2 separate regions of the Homo sapiens genome follow, and region 1 is linked to region 2. Evidence: fine-mapped expression QTL. A gene starts in region 2. The other region holds a variant in brackets. All regions are shown on one strand. Distances are from middle to middle. Region 1 has its middle 98 kb from the start of PTBP2. Region 2 holds the start of PTBP2 (polypyrimidine tract binding protein 2).

Region 1 (5,391 bases), 98 kb after region 2:
TTTAGCTTTATATTTTCTGTTTGAACTTGATAGCCCAATCATAAAATGCACATATTTAATTATAGACTGCACTTAAGATTTCATATGTATAAAAAAGTTGCTGTGAAACAGGTAATTTTAACACTCAGGAATTTCAAGGCTAAGGAAGAAAGACATACTCTCATGAGCAGCTCTGAACTTCAAACAGGATTTTCTGGCTGCCTTAATATATTAAAATGGAGCCTAAATCTGAAAACGTTTTTTTCATTCAGAAGAAAGTACAGAATTCAGTGAAATTGAGTATACTAGGAAATCTGATGGCAAGAATTCAGCAGAAAGTCTTAATTTTAAACCGTAATATTCATTGATTATGCAAAACCTTAGTTTTATAGTTATTCTTTGTTATTTTGAATAGCTTCCCTTTAAATTTTCTAGTTTCAGATTTTGCAAATAAAAGTGTACATGTTAAAGTTATAGAGTATTAGATTATTCACATTAAGAACTGTTCAAATACGCGGAAAAATAAAACCGTAATGAACACCTATGCACTTCACTCAACTATATCACTACCTAACATATTCCATATTTTAAACGTAATTATATATTAGTTGAAAGAAAACGTTACAGAATGAACTGAAATCCCATATGAACCTCTTTCTGATCTTAGTTCAAACCTTATTCTTTCCCAAGAGGTAATTGTTACCTTCAGTTTAGTATTTTATTATTCAGTGGTTGCTTTTCAAGAGGAATTTGTCCTATATTCTGTAGGCTAAATTTCTTGTTTTGCCTAGTTATAAAAATGGCAAATAATATGATATTGGGTGTTTAAATAGTACAATATTGTTCAAAACACACTTTATAATTTTTAACAGACTGTTTGGACATTGATAATTCCCCTATCAAATCTCATGACATTTAACCAATTTTTAACAAGGATTTTAAATTGTGTTTAAGAAATAAGTCATTTGGGCCTCAGGTTTCTCTTAAGGATGTAAACAAGGAGCTATATCATTGGTATTTTAGACGCTGAATTATGTGTAAGGTCCTTAAATACAAACATACCCTTTGTAGCTTCACAGAGCCACCCGTTTTGCACTTCTCTCGCTTTTCTTCCTCCCTCTTTGGCTCCCATTTCAATGGACAGAAAGACTATGTGGCATCTCTATTTTCATTCACTTGGTTTATTGTCTTGGTATGTTGTATAGGTTTTTGAATCAGAAAATTTTAACATTTTTAGATATTTCAAACATACAAAAAATAGAAGAATATTTAACAAACCCTTGTCAGCTTCAGTTAGCAACTTAGATCTTCCTCGTTTCCTCCACCCAATTCTCATCTCCTTTATTAATGCAGATCCCAGATATATTTTATCAAGAAATTTTGTAGCATATATTTGTGTTGTTTTATTCGTGGTCATAGTTGCTTTCTCTAATATCTAGACTAGCCTAGCTGGTCAATACTACTTTTCTTCAAATCCTAGAACCTCCCTATTAAAAATATAGTCACCAGACCAGTGGCAAATTAGTATCACCTAGGAGTTTATTAGAAACTCAGTCTATGAGCCTACTGAATCTACATTTTGACAAGATTGGCAGGTGATGCATTTGGACATAAGTTGGAGAAGCACTCAATGCATTTTTTCAGTTCTATAAAAATCAGCTTCAAAGTTTTTTCCTGAGTGTGGAAATTATTTCATTAGTAATTTTAAGTTATGCAGATATAGTTAATACCAAGAAATAATTGAACTGAAAAGGAACCCGGATATCTAGTTTTAACCAGCTGTTTTAAAGATAAACAGTTCTAGAGATCAAATGAATAGTTTAGCAACATATTTATTGTAACTTACCTGTAGTTAGAATCCAAGTCCCTGGCTTTCCAATCCAGTCTTCAATGTATAATACTGATCAAAAGAAATACAGGCCTGCTATTATTCATAAATTTAAACTATTATGTACAAGTTGATAGCTTATAATAGAAATCAGTATGATTAGTGTTAAAAGTCAAATTTAGTCTGACAGGGAAGGAATGTCCATGTGAACTGATTTTTTTTAATAGAATGCAAATTAATACTCAATTCCTGATTTGTTTATTACATTTTGTGGTTTAATGAAATGATACTCAGGTCATTTTCATAAATAGCTTTTCTATTAATGCTTCCTCAGTCACATTCTCTATTCCTATTGCATAGCACAGTCTAACAGTTGAAATGCCTAAGCCTTACTGAATGATGACTGATATTCTCT[G/C]TGAGAGTTAGAGCTGTACTATAAATATACATTACCTGTGCAAAGTATGCCTTCAGGGGCTATTCCCCATAACCTTAGCAAAATTTTAAAATATTCTTATGGCTAGCAATCTTATCTATTGTCATGTCTTACTATTTCCTGCTTACCACCCCCATTTCTCTCTCAACCTTGTTGCTGCATTAGCTGTCCATCACTTAACACTGTTTATTTCTCTGTTTTTCTTCCATCATTCTCTTCTTTGCAACTAAATGATTTAGACTTTTTATAACCATAATCAACCAGTTAGATTCTTTTTATTTGTGGTTATTGAGTTGATAAATGATAGTGCATTTTATGTAATATTCAGGTGTTATGCTATTTTTATCTGGTTCACTTTAAAACCTCCCTCCCCCCACTCCCTTTTTTTGTGGGTTTTTTTTTTATTATTATTATTTTCCAGTTTTGTGTTGTTTTGCTTTTTAACTTCTGAGATTGCAGTGGTTCCAGATGGTTGAAATCACTAGTAGTGATTTACATGAAGCATTCATGTATTTATTACTGGTATATTCAACTATGGTGGAGGGAAATTGGTCGAAGAATTACGGTTAAAGAGCTCCTTTAAAAAGGAGATTTGTAGAATTCTAAAATGTGATTCTGATTCATATAGTCATGATTCTTAGAAATTAGCTACAGGAAGAGATAGAAACATTGCTATAGTTGTCTTTGCCCTAAGTTTGGAGTTTTATAGTGTAATATATATATAATAGCTCTAATTATAAATACACTTTTACTCTGGAAAAAGCATAGACATTGACATAAGAGACATTTAAAAACCATTATTTTCTCATCTGTAAAATGGAGAGAATTACTTCATATGTTCACTTATAAGGATTATGTGAAATACTGTTCCATTCCATTAGTAGTTTTTCTTTTCCTCTAATTGGGGGTGGGGGCAGTTTTTGGCATTCTATTTATGGAAGGTGTTTTTTTCCCTAAGATCATTTTGATGTCTCAGAAGACATTTGCTATGTACGTTGGACATTTGCCATGTACATTGTAGAGAATACAAAGATAAACAGAACCACAGTACAGCTGGTTCTATTAGACATTGAAAATGCATATTCTAGCATATTTAATATATTAGGGAACAATTTAAGCATAATGTGAATTTCATGTTTACTGAAGATTTCATCCTGAGAAACAAATGAAAGCAGAAAATTACAACCAACTGAACCAGCTGTGTAAGAAATATATATATGGTGTGCACACATGTACATACCTCAGACATCTATTAGCATTCTCAGTTTTCCACAAGTTAAAAGCCACGCTCATCCATATCTGGTGCTAATAACTTCCTATCCAATTTCAGATAGCTGTTTTCAACACATCTGACACCTTCTTTTTTTCAAGCAAACTTCAGGTCTTTTTCAAGATAAAGTCATTTATAGTAGTGTCTATATATTTCTTAACCATTTAACATGTAAACTGTGCTGCCTTTTAAGAAATTAATTCTATCCTTTTTAGTGTCAGAGTTGAAGATTTTGAGTGTTGTGCCCTAACCTTATCATTTTCCTCATAAGTCCTGTGGTTTTTATTGTATGATTTTGCATAGTGTGGCAATTCTTGGAAATGCTTATGTTGTGTTATAGTATAACTGACTTACTACTTTCAAATAGCTTCTAGTCTGATTCATGTTATGACAGTATACAGTATAGCAAAATAAGGACATCAGGGAACAGGAGGCTGAGCATATCACCATTTACCAATGGTAGCTTGAGCAAGGCACTTCATTTATCGAAGTCCATTTTCTCATCTGTACAATGGAGGTGATGATAGTACATGTCTTTTCTGTCTTGTGTTATTTGTAGTTTCAAGTAAGATATGAAATATGCTGTAGAAATACAGGGTTGGGAATATCTAGTGGTACAAAAATCAACTTTTGGCCCAATTTTAAGGTGAGATAATTATGAGACATTTTTCGACCTCAAAGTCTTTGTTCTTTTCTCTCTACACCATTGTGAATAACACAGTGTATATATGAGATTAATTTATTACCTCGACTTTCCATTTTTGTTTTGTAAAGTAGTTTAATTTTTTATATCTATTTATAAAGTTAACTGCAGGAGTGTACCTGCAGTTAACTTTATACAGTTAAGAAGAGGTTGGTTTCAGTTTTAAAGATTGTATGTCAGTGTAAAACATCCATTATTATGCTTTCAAGTAAAATAGCTCCTAAAAATATGGATTACTATCAACTTTCAAGGAAAATAGCTCCTAAAAATATGGATTACTACCAACTTTCAAGGAAAATAGCTCCTAGAAATATGGATTACTAGCCACATAAATTGCTAACATTTGCTTTTATTATTATTATTATTATTATTTTAGACACAGTCTTGCTCTGTCACCCAGGCTGGAGTGCGGTGGTATTATCTCGGCTCACTGCAACCTCCACCTCTCGGGTTCAAGCAATTCTCCTGCCTCAGCCTTCCGAGTAGCTGGAATTACAGGCACCCACCACCACACCCAGCTAATTTTTGTATTTTTAGTAGAGACAGGGTTTTACCATGTGACCAGGCTGGTTTCGAACTCCTGACCTCAAATGATCCACCTGCCTCAGCCTCCCAAACTGCTGGGATTACAGGTGTGAGCCACCGCTCCCAGCCTATTTGCTAATATTTAACCTCTTGAGAGTCTTTAATTCTTTTTTTCAACAAGTGTTCATTACCTGCTATGTGCCAGCTTAGATGCTTTGGATGAAATACAGGTTGGTGCGAAAGTAATTGCGATTTTTGCCGTTAAAATTAGAAAAACCACAATTACTTTTGCACCAACCTAAATAACTAAAACACAATTTCTTCCTATCATGGGGCTTTCAGTTCAGTATGAGATAAGTAAAGAATTATATGGGTTGATAAATTTTCTGGAGGAACTATTGGGTGTTATTACAGTGTGCTCAATCTTTAGCAGTTAGGAAAGGATTCTTGAAGGTAGTTGTATTACCTGGGTTGGAGGTAAGTGTTGGGGACACAAGTGTTAGAAACAGAACAGTTTGTTTAAAAGTTGGGGACAAAAAAGGACCAGAATCAAGATTACGGCACCCTGGAGAAAGTTAAGCATGGCTCGGTCATAAATTAGGAGACAAGGAACAAATAGAGAAATACGTTTGGATAGAATAGTCAGATTATAG
Region 2 (5,320 bases):
AATCTAGTACTTTATGTGCCTTGACTTGTAAATTACCTTGCATTTTTCCAAGAAACTGTTAGCTTAAATAAGCAAGCAGATTAACTATTGTATGTTTGTGGTCTTGTACCGTATTCGAAAAAAAAATAAAGAAAAATGTGTTTTTGTGAACACTGTAATTTCTTCTGCTGCCTAAGGACAAGCTTCCCTCCTCATAGAATGGTTTGTCTTTGCCAAGATAAAGTGAGAACCAATCAATCAATATCGATCGAGCGAATGTGGGGAATACCAAGAATTAATACCATAGTTCCCGCCCTTTGGTAGCTTGCACATTCAATTGTTGAGTGAAAACACATGTATGAAACCACAAATATGTGAAAAGTGATTATTAGTGGCACTAATAACAGATCCTTTATTTTAAGGTTTAAGGTGAAGTGGTTATTGTAGGAAATTTGATATGTGGTTTTTTTTTTTTTTTTTTTTTTTGAGACAGAGTTTCGCTCTTGTTGCCCAGGCTGGAGTGCAATGGCGCGATCTTGACTCACCGCAACCTCGGCCTCCCAGGTTTAAGCGATTCTCCTGCCTCAGCCTCCCGAGTAGCTGGGATTACAGACATGCACCACCACCCCGGCTAATTTTGTATTTTTAGAAGAGACGGGGTTTCTCCATGTTGGTCAGGCTGGTCTTGAACTCCCGACCTCAGGTGATCTGCTTGCCTCGGCCTCCCAAAATGCTGGGATTACAGGCGTGAGCCACCGTGCCCGGCCTTTTTTTTTTTTTTTTTTAACGATTGACAATCCCATAGGCAAATCAAGAATTTGTAAAAATTTGGGTGCTTTGAAGAGTTCTATAGCAAAGTGTTTGGACAAGATGCTCTTTAAGGGTCTATCCAATTTAAAAGTAATATTATTTATGGCCGGGCACGGTGGCTCACGCCTGTAATCCCAACACTTTGGGAGGCTGAGGAGGGCAGATCACCTGAGGTCAGGAGTTCGAGACCAACCTGACCAACATGGAGAAACCCTGTCTCTACTAAAAATACAAAGTTAGCTGGGCGTGGTGGCGCGTGCCTGTAATCCCAGCTACTCGGGAGGCTGAGGCAGGAGAATCGCTTGAACCAGGGAGGCCGAGGTTGCAGTGAGCCGAGATTGCGCCATTGCACTTCAGCCTGGGCAACAAGAGCGAGACTGGGTCTCAAAAAAAAAAATTCTAAAAATTATACACAATATCATTTAGTATATGAAATTCCAATTAGCAAAGGATAAGAGCTTTGCCTGAAGGAGACACAGAAAAACCCAGAGTGAGTATTGAGAGTAACTGGAGGGACACAGGGAGTATTTGTCATTTTTCAGAATTAGAAGTGCATTTGTCCTTGTGTGTGTTGGGGGTGGAGGTGAAGGGTGCAGGAGAAGGATGGGTACTGGCAAAGTCGCTACTCACTGAGCAAATTTTCAAGCGGGTGCCTTTCCCAATTTTGTTGAGCCTCTGATAAAAACACGTTGAAGTAAAATGTCCACTATAGTATCAAGTAAAAATTGAGACCGTAAGATATAGCAAAGGGAGTCAATTTGCATAGCCCATTTTAATGCTTCTACTTTCTCTAACCAATCTGAAGACTCAGTTGTTCCCACTCCCATCTCCACTTTCCCTTTCATGCCTCCAAATGTTAAACTCCAACTATTGTAGCATTTTAACACATGGCTCCATTTGTGTCTATTTCCACCTAGCGTATTGTGAATATTTTCTACAGGCGCACACTAATCACCAACTGAAGTGAGAATCACATTTTCCTCCACTTGGCTTGGTACTACAGGTCTTGAAGCAAAAGCCTGTATTTCAGTCTGAGGAGTTCTACTTGCTTGAGAAAGTACTGTTGTTACCAAGTGGTCTCGTTCAGTGGGGTAAAGATTTTTGTTTTAGAGGCTGGAGCCGGTCTGCAAATAAAAGATGGCTTAGGAGAAAAGCTATCCAATGTTTTTTCCTTGGCCCGCATAGGTTGACGGTAGCCAAGCTGGTACTTGGCTTGGAGTGAAAAGTGGAGGCTGCCTGGGGGCGTCCTGCAGTCAGGGCAGAGAGAGTGTGGAGAGCTGTTGGGAGGTGTCCCACCCACGCCCCCACAAGGAGGGGAAACCAGGTCGCCGCGGTCTGCAGCAGAACGCCAGGTTCCAGAGGACGGCAGGCGGAGGGCGGAGGGAGAAAGGCGCGCGAAGGCGCGGAGGAGGCGTCGGCTGCGGCGCCCACTCCCCCTAGTCCCAGCGCCCTGCCGCTCGCCTCCCGCTGCCGGGCGCCGGCGCGCTCGGCTCTTTCCGCCGCCGCCGCTGCCGCGCGGTGGCCCGTGCGCCTCGGCACCTTCGGCAATTTCCGTCGGGCCCCAGCCGCCATTTTCTCGCCGCTTGTGTGGCTCGCTGGCTGCGTGGCTCGGTTCTTGTGAGCGAAGCTTTGTCCGGTTCGGCAATGGACGGGTATGTAATCGGGCCGGCGAGAAGGTGTGTGTGAGAGAGGAGTTGGACCGTCCTTCGGCCCGGTCCCGGGCCGGGGAGAAACCCTCCCGCGGCCCCTCCCAGGGCTGGGCTGCCGTTACCCAACCCCCGCCCCATCGCACACACCCCTCCCTTTGCTTCCCCCGGCGGGCTTTGGTCGAGAAAATGAGAAGAAAGCGGGCTTGGAGGCTGGGGAGGCATAGGGGCGATGGCGGGGGTGAGGATCCCGGAGTGGGAGCGGGCACCGGCTTGGCGGCGGGGGATGGGGTGGGAACCCCATAACGTCTCCCCGGTCTGTCCCTGCCCCCTCTAGGAGCCATTTCGATCCGTACCTTGGGACCCGACCCTTGGGTTAGCGGTGCCTGTGAGAGCGAGTGGGATGGGCAGAGACAGGCCTTTGGATTGGGGGAGCCTCTAGGGGAAGAGGAGAGAGGCACCCCATGTGGACCCCAGCCATGAGCAACCTCTCCGGCCTCGCCCGGCCCTCCGTGGTCGGGAGAGATGCCGGTGGCGGGAGCTCCGGGGAAAGCCTAGTGGGAGCCGCTGGGGAAGGGGGGAGGGCGTGCGGCGGCGGGAGGAAGGGGGAGGGCAGATGTCATACTCCTTTGTTTTCATTTGAGTCTGGTAGTGGGGGCGGGAGGGAGGAAAAAATGCCTTTTTGTGGGGACTGAAAACATTCAAGGCTTGGCAAAAGGGCCCAGAAATTAAATCATCTAAAAAACGAAGTGTTTGAAGCCGACATCAGTCACATGGGCAAAGGCCAACAGCAATGGCAGAAACAAGAGCAGATAGTCAACAAAGGGCTATCTCTTTAGCTACTTTGGTCAGTTTCTGGAAAAACGACTATAAAAACCCAGAACCATGCTGCATCTTTGCGAACCTGAGTCAAGACGGAATGCTGAGTGAGGTGAGAGGCAAGACTGTGAAATGGTAGGGACCGATGTCTCGCTCATATGCTTCACACCTGAAAAGACTCAGTAATTTAACTCAATGTTAGAAAGGGGGCACGCTTAAGGTCAAAAATACAGCAGTATGCAGCTCTTTTGGGAGTGTAAACATAGTATCATTTAACAAGTACATTTATTAAAATCAGTGAGTATTTGAAGAATCAACAATTTGGTTAAGCGCCTAGAGTTTGGTGTGTTTTAAAAGGTACTAAAAACAAGATTTTATAAAAGTTAACACAGTCTCACAGAATTCAAATCATCCTAGATGTTACCTAAAGATTATTTTCCAGATGAAACAAATCCAGAGAAGTTCAGTATTCCCCCCAGATCAACACGGAAATTGATGTCAAAACTTGCACTAGAATTCATGTTTCCTGATTCCTGGTTCCTGTGGAGACTACTAAAGAGTTTAAGCGTTAAATTATTAATCTCAGTATACTGGCATTGTAGAAATGGCATAGTGTTTTGGGTTTTGTTCTTTTTGGCTATTGAATGTGTTGTTAAAAAATACCACAAGTTGTCTCACATTTGAAAGTTACTTTTAGAAAACCAGGTTGGTAACAGTACAGGTAAGTCACGGATCATCTGTGGTATTTTTTATCCCCATCTGTGTGTGAGTGGCTGGAAGATTTATGAATGATGGACTATCCTAAAAAGTTTTAGAGCCAAAGAGTGAGTGATTAGAAGAATAACAGGAGGTTGAAACTACTTATTTTTTCTTTGCAGAATCGTCACTGAGGTTGCAGTTGGCGTGAAGGTAGGAAAATACTATGTTTGAAACTGGGATTGTTGGATCTATTATCATAATTACTGGAAAATTTTAGCTTTTGCTTTTGAAAACTATAACGTAGCTAACAAAACCCAAGTGTAAAATGTTTCCTTTCATTTGTAAAGTTGGACCATATAAACAGTTTGTAATCACCATAAGTTTTTCTAGAACTGTCAGTCTGTAAGAATAACCTTTTAAAGTAAGTATGAATGATCAAGAAATTGAAAATGCTTTCACACATGGCTTCTTGTAATATAAAACGATACCCCAATTTTCTGAGGGGAAATAATGATTTTAAATGGATGGTAAGTGGTTTGACCTATATCTTATAATTTTGTTAATCTAAGTTTTTTGTTTTTTATTACTTTTTGTCATGAAAATGAATATATTTTGGTTAATAATAAAGCACATTAGAAATGAATTACACTGATCCTTAAAAAGGAAGTTGTTGAGGCAGTTAGCTTCAAATTTGAATTAGAAGTTAAGAGCTGGTTTGTCTATTAAAGAAAGTCTTTATGGTAGAGATCCTTTGGAATCCTTCCTTTTTGGCTAAGAAAACTACTCATCGTTTAAACTTTAGTTCTAATGCTTAACATTTTCTTGAGTACTTGCAACTTTTAATGTCATGATGTATTGTAATTTTTTTTTGTTTTTTGTTTTTTTGAGACGGAGCCTCACTCTGTTGCCCAGGCTGGATGCAGTGGCACGATCTTGGCCCACTGCAACCTCTGCCTCCTGGGTTCAAGCAGTTCTCCTGCCTCAGCCTCCTGAGTAGCTGGGATTACAGGTGCGCACCACCACGCCCAGCTAATTTGTATTTTTAGTAGAAATGGCATTTCACCCTGTTGGTCAGGCTGGTCTCAAACTCCTGACCTCATGATCTGCCTGCCTCTTATGATCTGCCTGCCTTGACCTCCCAAAGTGCTGGGATTACAAGTGTGAGCCACCGTGCCCGGCCTGTATTGTCATTTTTCATTTGCAAGCCTCTCTGTCCTGAGAGGCTTTCTGCTTAGTCCAGTGATGCTGACTGTTCAAACATTTTTTCGAATTCTTAAAATTGTATCCATAATGGGGGGAGGGGGAAGGGATAGCATTGGGAGATATAGGGGGGAGGGGGGAGGGATAGCTTTAGGAGATATACCTAA

What was found.
Region 1: its variant is fine-mapped to the expression of PTBP2 in fibroblasts (GTEx, PIP 0.95).

Annotation. Positions count from the first base shown.
Region 1 is chr1:96,817,061-96,822,451 of GRCh38, forward strand. It overlaps a transcript of PTBP2 not described here. Among named protein-coding and RNA genes, the nearest start is that of PTBP2, 98 kb to the left of the region's middle. The variant G/C (reference allele first, on the strand shown) is at 2,223.
Region 2 is chr1:96,719,432-96,724,751 of GRCh38, forward strand. PTBP2 (polypyrimidine tract binding protein 2) reads left to right here and starts at 2,353. Exons shown (of 14, transcript NM_021190.4): 1 at 2,353-2,441; 2 at 4,133-4,163. The coding sequence starts at 2,434. RefSeq lists silencers at 2,119-2,318, 2,549-2,828.